Linked DNA regions of Homo sapiens. The protein of the gene in region 1 interacts with the protein of each later gene in a biochemical or structural test. Each region holds a gene or a part of one and is shown in the gene's direction. Other genes may lie near its edges. The genes, in order: CPSF1, PAPOLA and TAF5.

Region 1 (3,752 bases):
ACAGGGCAGTCTGGTGGGCACGAGGGGTTGTGGTCTGAATGGAGCAGGGGTAAGAGCCCAGCAGGGGAGGAGAGTCAGTAACAGTGAACACAGACAACTCTGGAGGAGATGTGCGTAAACTGAAGCAAGAAATGGAGCCATAAATAGCAGGAAAAGAGGTTTTCTTCTTCTGTTTTGTTTTTTGTTTTTAAGAAACGGGGTCTTGCTATGTTGTCCAGGCTGGCCTCGAACTCCTGTGCTCAAGCCATCCTCCTGGGGTCAGTCTAGTCGTGGCTCTGTAACTAACTGCCCTGGAATATGCAAACGAGGTCTTTTATCATAATCGCAGACCTGGAAGCCAGGTTTTCAGGGATTCATCAGAGTGTGGGGAGCCCTTGGCTCTCCTCCACCAGGGCAAGCCTTGACAGGGATGACTTGAAGAGCTGGGGACAGGCTAGATGTGTCTTCCCCTACCCCCACACCGTCCCTCCACTCTCCCCTGTCCCCAGCATGGCTAGCTTGGTTTTCCTGGCAGCATGGTGGTGTTGGTGTAGTTGAGCTTCTTGCAGGAACTCAGAGCCCTAGGAGGCTAAGGCAGAAGCTGCCAGTCACTTTAAGGGCTAGACCAGGAGGGCACCGTCCCTGCCACCACAGTCTGCCCTAAAGGCAGCCTCCAGCCCAGATTCACCTGGAGAGGGAGGGAGACAGCCACCTTTCATACAGCTGTCTTTTTTTTTTCTTTTTTGAGAGAGAGTCTCCCTCTGTCACCCAGGATAGAGTGCAACAGTGCGATCTCAGCTCACTGCAACCTCTGCCTCCCGGGTTCAAGCAGTTCTCCTGCCTCAACCTCCCGAGTAGCTGGGATTACAGGCGCCTGCCACCACACCCAGCTAATTTTTTGTATTTTTGGTAGAGATGGGGTTTCACCATGTTGGCCAGGCTGGTCTCGAACTCCTGACCTCAAGTGATCCACCCGCCTTGGCCTTCCAAAGTGCTGGGATTACAGGTGTGAGCCACGGAGCCCGGCCAAGACATTCCCAGGTGTTTAGATGAGACATTTGTATTTTTGACAGGAACACCACAGAAGAGGCAAACAGCAGCCCCATCAGCTTTCAGGAGGCGGCGGAGGCCTTTGCCTCATGACTGGATGCTGATGCTTTGATGCTTGGTTGGGTAGTGTTGGCCTGGATTCCCCCACTGTAAGGTTATTTCTTCCTTTTGTAACTAAAAGTATCTTGTAGGGACTTATTTTGAAACCCTGTAAACGTCCTCTTATTCAGATTTTCAAGGTTTTTTTTTCTTTCTTTCTTTCTCTTTTTTTTTTTAGACGGAGTCTCGCTCTATCACCCAGGCTGGAGTGCAGTGGCACAATCTCGGCTCACTGCAAGCTCCACCTCCTGGGTTCAAGCGATTCCCCTGCCTCAGCCTCCTGAGTAGCTGGGACTACAGGCGCCCGACTAATGTTTTTGTATTTTTAGTAGAGACGGGGTTTCACCGTGTTAGCCAGGATGGTCTCGATCGCCTGACCCCGTGATCCGCTTGCCTCAGCCTCCCAAAGTGCTGGGATTACAGGCGTGAGCCACCACGCCCAGCCTTTGGTCGCTATTTCTTTAGCTATTGATTCTGTCCCCTTTCCCCCAACATGCCAGTTAGACCATTTGACTATGTACACATTTTTCTTAAAATCCTTCTGAGTGGTGGCCGGGCGCAGTGGCTCACGCCTGTAATCCCAGCACTTTGGCAGGCCGAGGTGGGTGGATTGCCTGAGCTCAGGAGTTCAAGACCAGCCTGTCCAAGATGGTGAAACCCCGAGTCTACTAAAATACAAAAAAAAAAAAAATTAGGCGTGGTGGTGGGCGCTTGTAGTCCCAGCTACTCGGTAAGCTGAGGCAGGAGAATGGCTTGAACCTGGGAGGCAGAGCTTGCAGTAAGCCAAGATTGTGCCACTGCACTCTAGCCTGGCGACAGAGCAAGACTCCGTCTCAAAAAAAAAAAAAATTCTTCTGAGTGGTTACCCCTGTTTCTTGCATGTACACAGAAGTGCAGTTGATCTCTGTATATTGACCTTATACTTGGCAGAGTGGATCAGGCGTCCTTGGCTGGTCCTGACCAAGAGGGAAAACTTCTTTTTTTGTTTGTTTTTTTGAGACCAAGTCTCTCTCTTGTCCCCCAGGCTGGAGTGCAATGGCATGATCTTGGCTCACTGCAACCTCCGCCTCCCGGATTCAAGCGATTCTCCTGCCTTAGCCTCCTGAGTAGCTGGGACTACAGGCACCTGCCACCACACCCAGCTAATTTTTGTATTTTTAGTAGAGACGGGATTTCACTATGTCACCATGTTGGCTAGACTGGTCTCGAACTCCTTACCTCAGGTGATCCACCCACCTCGGCCTCCCAAAGTGCTGGGATTACAGGCGTGAGCCACTGTGCCCGGCCTCAAAAGGGAAAACTTGTAATGTTTCACTCCCAGCACCACATTGCTGTAGACTTTTTGTAGATACCCTTTATTTGATTAAGGAAGTTGGGCGCGGTGGCTCATGTCTATAATCCTTGCACTTTGGGAGGCCAAGGTGGGTGGATCACCTGAGGTCAGGGGTTCGAGACCATCCTGGCCAACATGGCAAAACCCTATCTATTAAAAATACAAAAATAGCCGGGCATGGTAGCACATGCCTGTAATCCCAGCTACTTGGGAGGCTGAGGCAGGAGAATTGCTTGAACCCAGGAGGCAGAGGTTGCAGGGAGCTGAGATCACACTACTGCCCTCCAGCCTGGGTGACAGAGTGAGACTCTGTCTCAAAATTTAAAAAAATAAATAAATTAGTCAGGTGTGGTGACTCACATGTGGTCCCAGCTACTCAGGAGGCTGAGGTGGGAGGATCACCTAAGCCCAGGAGGTCGAGGCTGCAGTGAAACATGATTGCTCCTCTGCACTCCAACCTGGGAGACAGTGAGGCCCTATGTCAAAAAACAAAGGCCTGGCGTGGTGGCTCATGCCTGTAATCCCAGCGCTTTGAGAGGCCGAGGTGAGTGTATCGCTTGAGGTCAGGGGTTGAAGACCAGCCTGGCCATGGCAAAACCCTGTCTGTACTAAAAATACAAAAATTAGCTGGACGTGGTGGTGGGCGCCTATAATCCCAGCTACTGAGGAGGCTGAGACAGGAGAATCGCTTGAACCTGGAAGGCAGAGGTTGCAGTGAGCCAAAATCACACCATTGCACTCCAGCCTGGGCAACAAAGTGAGACTCCATCTCAAAAAAAAAAAAAAAATTTTCCTCCTATTTTTGCTTTACTAGGAGTTTTTATCACGAATGCCTTTATCAGATGCTTTTTTTGTATCCACTAAAATGACATGATTTTTCTCCTTAATTTTGACAGCATGGTAAGTTTAGCGATGGCTGTTCTTGCGGAAATCTAGTTTTGCGTTCCTGGAATAACTCAACCCAGTTGTGTTACAATACCCCTGCTTGTCACTGGGCTCATCTGCAGGCGTTTTGAGGAGGTTGGTGTCACTTCCTGTCCCACCTGTCTGTGGGCTGTTGGGGTGGCCTGAGCCACCTGCGGTGCCGTCAGCCCCACATGAGTGGGTGTGTGTTTTTTTTTTAAGTGTGTCATTACTTCTGAAACCTTTGGTAGAATTTGCGGGTGAAGCCCTGGAGTTGCCCTTGTCGCTGTGAGATGGGTATTGGTTTGTGGATGCTTCTTCTGTATCTCTTAACCAGCTTCCAAGATGCCCTCCCCATAGCACAAGTCCATCGTGAAAAATGACCTTG
Region 2 (3,752 bases), on another chromosome or scaffold:
TAAAAGACTCATTTTTTTTCCCTAGAAATTGAAATCTATTGAAGGCTTTTAACTTTCTTTCCTTGTGGAAAAATTGGAAATTCTCCCCCTTCTCCCAAATTATCCAGATTTCTATGATGGATATTTTAACAAAACTCTCTTAGGTTTTGTGTGTGCCCTCATAATGCCCTTGCTTTATAATTTTGATTCACTTTGTAAACCAAGAAAAAAGTATGTGTATCATTATGTAATCTACAAAATTATTAATGGCTTCATAGAATGCTGTCTTAAGGCTATGATTATTTTTATCCAACCAATTTCCTATCCATAGCAATTATTTCCATTTAAAAAAGAAAGTTGTGCTTTCCTGCTGTAATATTGGTTACAGCTAAATACCATATCTGCCATTCATTCATGTTTATTTACTTAGCATAAATTAATGGAAGAAGAATTATTGAGGAAAATAGTATGCTTTATCTTAAAGTTTGGTATACATCACCAAGTTGTCCTCCAGGAAGGCTGCATGTCTTCCATTCCTACTTCTTACATCTTATTTACCTTTTTTAATTTCATAGGAGAAAACAATATTTCGTTTTTTTTTTTTTTGGTATAGTTTCATTGAAATTGAAGTTTTTATATTTTTCTTTTCTTCTTTGTCCTTTTTTTGGTTTTTTTTGAGATGGAGTCTTGCTCTGTCGCCCAGGCTGGAGTGCAGTGGGACAATCTCGGCTCACTGCAACCTCTGCCTCCTAGGTTCAAGCAATTCTTCTGCCTCAGCCTCCCGAGTAGTGGGGATTACAGGCACCCGCCACCATGCCTGGCTAATTTTGTATTTTTAGTAGAGATGGGGTTTCACCATGTTGGCCAGGCTGGTCTTGAACTCCTGATGTCATGATCTCCCCACCTCGGCCTCCCAAAGTGCTAGGATTACAGGTGTGAGCCACCACGTCTGGCCTATATTTTTATTTTCATTTATTTGTGTAGATATTATTTTCTTTTGTGTACTGCTTTTAAAAAGTTTAGAGTGATGGCATGACATACTTTACCCTGTGTTTTCTGATGAGTAGAATCAGTGCACTGATTACTAGAGAGGGGTGAAGAGACCATAAGGAGGGAGAAATCTTTTTTAGACATATTTTCTACTTTTAATTAAAGGTGTGAGGTTATTTTATTTAGTAGTATTGAATAAGTTTTTTTTTTTTTTTTTCCTCCCACAAAGCTAAGAACTGTCCTTGGGTTTATGCTCTGTTATTGTCTGGGCAACATTTCATGATGTGCCTATGTGTGTTTTTAATTATTGTTTGCTTAAAATGTCCCAAGTTGGAGCTGGTTGGAAAGTCATGAGCTAGTTTGACCCATGCCTTATAAGATTTAAGTAGGCAAATAGAAATTTATTAATATCTGAAATGGTGAAATAACCTACAACATCTACTGACTAGATGTTTTTGTAATGTAGTCACATCTTTCTCTTGATCCCTCCTGTCTTCCAGTTTGTCTTCTTTATTAGCCACCAAACCCAGTTATGTTCTTTTATTCTTTTTTAAGTCTCTTTTCCCCCTTCCCCATCCTCTTTGTCTCACAGGAACAACTTGATACAGAGACAAGTACAACTCAATCAGAAACTATTCAGACAGCGGCTTCTCTGTTGGCCTCTCAGGTACTAAGTGCAAAAAGCAAGGAGAATTTTGTAAATGTCCTTAAGATTAGTGTGGTATATTGAATTAAAGTGAGAGTTCATAGAAGACTATTAAAATTAATCTTTCTGAAAGTAATTACTTGCTAGCCTATAAACGTATTTATTGTAGTTTTAAGGCAGGGCCCTGGATTTGACGGAACCGTTCTCTGGGACTGTTTCGATGTTAACCCATCCCCTTATATTAATATATTATTTGATACTGCAAATCATTTAAATTCTCACTAGTCATTTACACAGGGTTCATATGTAGGTTTTATTTGTAGGTCAAAAGTGAAATTAAAACTAGGAATGAACTAAAAAACATTCTTCGTGGATTTCTTTTGCAAAGGCTAATATATTTTTATTTTAAAAATGTATTTCTGCCTTATTTTTCCACTACTGATTTCAGTTAGTTATTTAATATAGCCCATAGCTCTTCAGAATTATGTTTTCATTTGTCCTAGCAATTCTACTTGTGACAGACCCTCACATACAGAATACAGTAGGCATCTGGAATCTTTTTTCATTGATTTGTGAACCTTCATTTTGTTGAATAATTTTTTTCTTGAATCCTTTCACATGAATGAACCCTAACATCTAGCTCAAATTCTGACACAAAGTAGATATATTCTTTAATAGATGATAAAACTGGTTAATGTCTACAAAGTAACTGAGATAACAACTGCTGCTGTACTGATATGATACTATGTACTATGATGATATTTTGCTGCTCCTGTGCAGCTCCGAGTTATTTTAACGTGATCATTTAAACATGTGCTTTTGCTAGATGTTAACTTTTATTGACTCTAAAGATATATAAATATTATGTTTAGTTTCTGAAATACCTTTTCCATAATCTAATAAAACTTTAGGGGGAGTAACTAACATCAGGAAGTATGCTTAATATTGATACGTGGACAAACTTGTTTATCAGTCTTAAACTGTCCTGTGATTGTGATTGCATGTTTTTTGGTTTGCCACATACTCTCGGGACTTATTTTCATAGTTTTGTCTTACTGAATTTATCCCTATAGTAATTAGTACCCATGGGTATTTGCCTTTTAGATATTTTTATGAGTGAGTAGAATTTTCTTTCTAATGAAAGGATTCATAGAGCCATAGAGAGAAAAATCACCCAGTTATGTAAGAAGAATGATTATGTTGATTTAAAAAAAAATTCATTCCTATCTTTGGTAATGTTAGGGGCGTACTTATTTCTGGGGAGGTGATAATATTGTGGCTATACCTAATAAAGAGTTCTTATTGTTTTGAGATAAATCTGGAAATATTTATAGATGAAATGATAAGATCTCTAGGATTTGCTTCAGAATAACACAAGGTGAATTGAAAGTGGGAGGACAGTGGCTTTGATTTGATAATTGATGAAGCTGGGTAATGAATACATGGGGATGCATTATACAGTGCTCTCTACTTTGTGTATGTTTGGAATTTTCCATAATAAAACTTTTAAAGATCCATCTCTGTATTTTTTTAGTGTTAAAGAACGCTTGTGATTTAATCTAATTAATATGAAAATAATCTACCTAAAATTTAGGATGATTAAATTATTGCTTAGCTGTATATATTTGTTTAATTTACAGTGTCAGAAAATAATAAATTTACTGCTGCTTCTGTATATAAAATGAGCTTTGAGTATTCTCCCACTTGGGGGTGCTCCAATACTAGTTAATATTACAGCTATTAGTGTTGTAATAAGTGAATACAGTTTAGCAGTAACTTAAGCATTATATGATAGGTGATTCTTAGAGGAACAATTTTAAAAACTATTTGAAATTACTTAGGAGTTTTTAAAATATTATTAAAATATACCTATTTGAAAATTCCTTTGTTGAACACATTATTTGTTGAACAAATAATGTGATAGGCATATTTACATTCCATTTTGACAACATTATAGAGTTTTTAAATTTGTAATACTTTTCTTCTTAGAAGGTTTCTTAGGAAGTAAAGCAATGGAAAATACATCTCATTGTTAAATTATGGTGCTTTGAACAATGTTGTGTTCTTTGCTTTCATTCTCAGAAAACATCCAGTACAGACCTTTCTGATATCCCTGCTCTCCCTGCAAATCCTATTC
Region 3 (3,752 bases), on another chromosome or scaffold:
GAGAATTATTAGCATGTCTGTAGTTTTTTTTTCTTTTTCTTCAAAAGACATTTCCTTTTTAATTCTTACATAGCTTACACAGCATGGGAAAATAGCATCTTTATTTTAGGGTCAAAAATTGTTGAGTTTTAAGTGACATATCACATTTCTTAAACTTTCTCAATTGACCTTATTTGACTATACTTTGTTAATTACCCCTGCTATTTTTTTCTTGTAAAGAACTCTGATTTTCCCTAAGTTTTTGTATCATATTACCTCATTCAGTAGGTGCTCGGTATATGTAGAGTGTCAGGGTTAACATTAGTTTGGTTAGTTCTTTCAATTGATACCTACTGTGAATTGCGTGTATGAATTAAAAGTGAGATGCAGCATGTTAGGTATATTTAATATAGTCAAATATATATAAAATATTAAATGTATTCAAATGTATATAAAACTGGGCAGGTGACCAAAGGTTACTCTGGGAGTCAAATATATCACCTTCTCTTCTCTCAGGAACTATCTGCTTTCCTCTTCAGAGGACGGAACTGTTAGATTGTGGAGCCTTCAAACATTTACTTGTTTGGTGGGATATAAAGGACACAACTATCCAGTATGGGACACACAATTTTCTCCATATGGATATTATTTTGTGTCAGGGGGCCATGACCGAGTAGCTCGGTAAGAACACTGTGATCTTATGACTGGGTCTATTCAATGAACAGAATGGTTTCTTGTTGGGAATTACACAGCCAGCCAAATTCATTTACACTTCCATTATTGAGGTTCAACTTTCTGAGAAGCTTTTGCATTTATAACTTATTTGAAATTGGGGCCGGGCGCAGTGGCTTATGCCTGTAATCCCAGCACTTTGGGAGGCCGAGGTGGATGGATCACCTGAGGTCAAGAGTTTGAGACCAGCCTGGCCAACATGGTGGAACCCCGTCTCTACTAAAAATACAAAAATTAGCCGGGCGTGGTGGTAGGCACCTGTAATCCCAGCTATTCAGGAGGCTGAGGCAGGAGAATCATTTGAACCTGAGAGGCGGAGGTTGCAGTGAGCCGAGATCGCACCATTGCACTCCAGCCTAGGGGACAAGAGCGAGACTTCATCTCAAAAAAAAAAAAAAAAAAAAAAAAAAGAAAAGAAATTGGGGCAGGAGTATTATTATATCTGCAATTACATCTATATGAATCCTGGTTTTTAAAAAATAGTTAATTAACAATCCTCCCTCCCAACCCCATCAGATACTTAACCTTGTCTTCCATACCACTGTGAGCACCTTTATGTTTCTCTGTCATCTGCTTAGAAGTTGAGGATAAGGTAGTTCAGGTTAGAAACTATTTGGCCAGGTGCAGTGGCTCACGCCTGTAATCCCAGCACTTTGGGAGGCCAAGGAGGGCAGATAACTTGAGGCCAGAAGTTCCAGACCAGCCTGGCCAACATGACGAAACCCCGTCTCTACTGAAAAAAAAAACAAAAATTAGCCGGGTGTGGTGGCACGTGCCTGTAGTCCCAGCTACTCAGGAGGCTGAGGCAGAATTGCTTGAACCCAGGAGGCAGAGGTTGCAGTGAGCCGAGATTGCACCACGGCATTCTAGCCTGGATGACAGAGTGAGACTGTCTCAAAACAAAACAACTATTTGGTGGCCAGAACTAGGGGAAAATACTTTTCTGTGGTTTAGACTAGGAATAGAGGAGGAAGAATATACAGAGAATTGGAGTTCTAGAACTTAAGTTTTGGCTGGCTACAGTGGTACACGCCTATAGTCCCAGCTACTGGGGAGGCTGAGGTGGGAGGATTGCTGGAACCGAGTTTGAATCCAGCTTGGGCAACAGAGCAAGACCTCAGCATTTTTTTTTTTTTTTTTGAGACAGAGTCTCGCTCTGTTACCCAGGCTGGAGTGCAGTGTCGCCATCTCGGCTCACTGCAACCTCTACCTCCTGGGTTCAAGCAATTCTCCTGCCTCAGCTTCCTGAGTAGCTGGGATTACAGGCGTGCGCCACCATGCCCAGCTAATTTTTTGTATTTTTAGTAAAGACGGTGTTTCACCATGTTGGTCAGGCTGGTCTCGAACTCCTGACCTCGTGATCTGCATGCCTCGGCCTCCCAAAGTGCTAGAAGTGTAAGCGTGAGCCCCCATGCCTGGCAAGACCTCAGCTTAAAAAAAAAAAAAAATTGTACCAGATGAACTCTTAGGACTGTGAGTCTCATTTTTCTTCCCCTCAGTTAACTAGTAAGTGGGGGGCCCACTCAGAACTAACTTTTTATGTGGATGTTTCTGTATTTATTTTGTATAGATTTTTGGCGTTTCACAGCTATCTACTAATTGTCATCTTTTGCTTTCAATAACTTTATAAAAGGCTCTGGGCTACAGACCACTATCAGCCTTTAAGAATATTTGCCGGCCATCTTGCTGATGTGAATTGTACCAGATTCCATCCAAATTCTAATTATGTTGCTACGGGCTCTGCAGACAGAACTGTGCGGCTCTGGGACGTCCTGAATGGTAACTGTGTAAGGATCTTCACTGGACACAAGGTATTTTACACTCTTACTATTCCAGCATCCAAGGTTGCTTTCAAAATAAAAATATTTTTTAAACAAGTGACACATAAATTTTAAAGATACCATTCTTACTACAAAACTTTAAAATTTTGTCTTATTTTCCTAGACATACTTTGATCTTTTCTATGAACTTTTTTCTAGGGACCAATTCATTCCTTGACATTTTCTCCCAATGGGAGATTCCTGGCTACAGGAGCAACAGATGGCAGAGTGCTTCTTTGGGATATTGGACATGGTTTGATGGTTGGAGAATTAAAAGGCCACACTGATACAGTCTGTTCACTTAGGTTTAGTAGAGATGGTGAAATTTTGGCATCAGGTAAATGACTATTAATGGCTTTACGATAAATGCTATGTTAAGAGGAAACAGTGTTGACGACTGCAATACTAAGTCCTTATGTTTTAGGTTTTACTTCCCTTTAGCTATGATTCCAGAGTGTCATCCTACATCAATCACTTCTCAGGTTAAAGTACTGCTTGATAATGCTCCTTAGGAAGGAATAGAGTTATTGGTCAAGTTTAGATTTTTCACCCAAAATGTACAGTAAATACATAGTGTAGTGGACAAAATGTCCGAATGTAAATATGATGGATGCAACTAATGGTTTCCTTTGACTTCCCCTTAGGTTCAATGGATAATACAGTTCGATTATGGGATGCTATCAAAGCCTTTGAAGATTTAGAGACCGATGACTTTACTACAGCCACTGGGCATATAAATTTACCTGAGAATTCACAGGAGTTATTGTTGGGAACATATATGACCAAATCAACACCAGTTGTACACCTTCATTTTACTCGAAGAAACCTGGTTCTAGCTGCAGGAGCTTATAGTCCACAATAAACCATCGGTATTAAAGACCTTTTGGAAGCTACTGTTTTTAAAAAGGGAGACTAAAAGCAAATACCTCAGTGATTAATATTTAAGCTACAGAGAATGTTTTTGTCTATATGGATCTGGAAGTATGCTGCTTGGAAAAATCTGAACAGGACAGTTCCACGTTTCTATAGCAACCACATTTGACTAATTTCCGTTAGTTGAATAAGAGGTATTATGATCATGGAGGGGACATTTATGGTGCTTTGGATTGTGTGGAAACTATGCATTTTCTGTTCAAATGCTATTTTAATTTATTACATTTAGAAAAAAAGTTGATTTCAATAATTCATCCTGCTTCAAGATTCAAATTCAGAAATATACTA

What was found.
Region 2: the proteins of CPSF1 (region 1) and PAPOLA form a complex in vitro, tested with the Homo sapiens proteins (one study listed by BioGRID).
Region 3: the proteins of CPSF1 (region 1) and TAF5 form a complex in vitro, tested with the Homo sapiens proteins (one study listed by BioGRID).

What each region holds. Positions count from the first base shown.
Region 1 is NC_000008.11:144,402,596-144,406,347, reverse strand, and holds part of CPSF1 (cleavage and polyadenylation specificity factor subunit 1), read left to right. Parts: intron 1-514; exon of another isoform or gene 515-518; intron 519-1,052; exon of another isoform or gene 1,053-1,183; intron 1,184-3,357; exon of another isoform or gene 3,358-3,481; intron 3,482-3,752. UniProt on the Homo sapiens protein: Component of the cleavage and polyadenylation specificity factor (CPSF) complex that plays a key role in pre-mRNA 3'-end formation, recognizing the AAUAAA signal sequence and interacting with poly(A) polymerase and other factors to bring about cleavage and poly(A) addition.
Region 2 is NC_000014.9:96,561,258-96,565,009, forward strand, and holds part of PAPOLA (poly(A) polymerase alpha), read left to right. Parts: intron 1-1,561; coding exon 1,562-1,636; intron 1,637-3,697; coding exon 3,698-3,752. UniProt on the Homo sapiens protein: Polymerase that creates the 3'-poly(A) tail of mRNA's. Also required for the endoribonucleolytic cleavage reaction at some polyadenylation sites.
Region 3 is NC_000010.11:103,384,831-103,388,582, forward strand, and holds part of TAF5 (transcription initiation factor TFIID subunit 5), read left to right. Parts: intron 1-495; coding exon 496-660; intron 661-2,344; coding exon 2,345-2,522; intron 2,523-2,690; coding exon 2,691-2,868; intron 2,869-3,175; coding exon 3,176-3,393; 3' UTR 3,394-3,752. UniProt on the Homo sapiens protein: The TFIID basal transcription factor complex plays a major role in the initiation of RNA polymerase II (Pol II)-dependent transcription.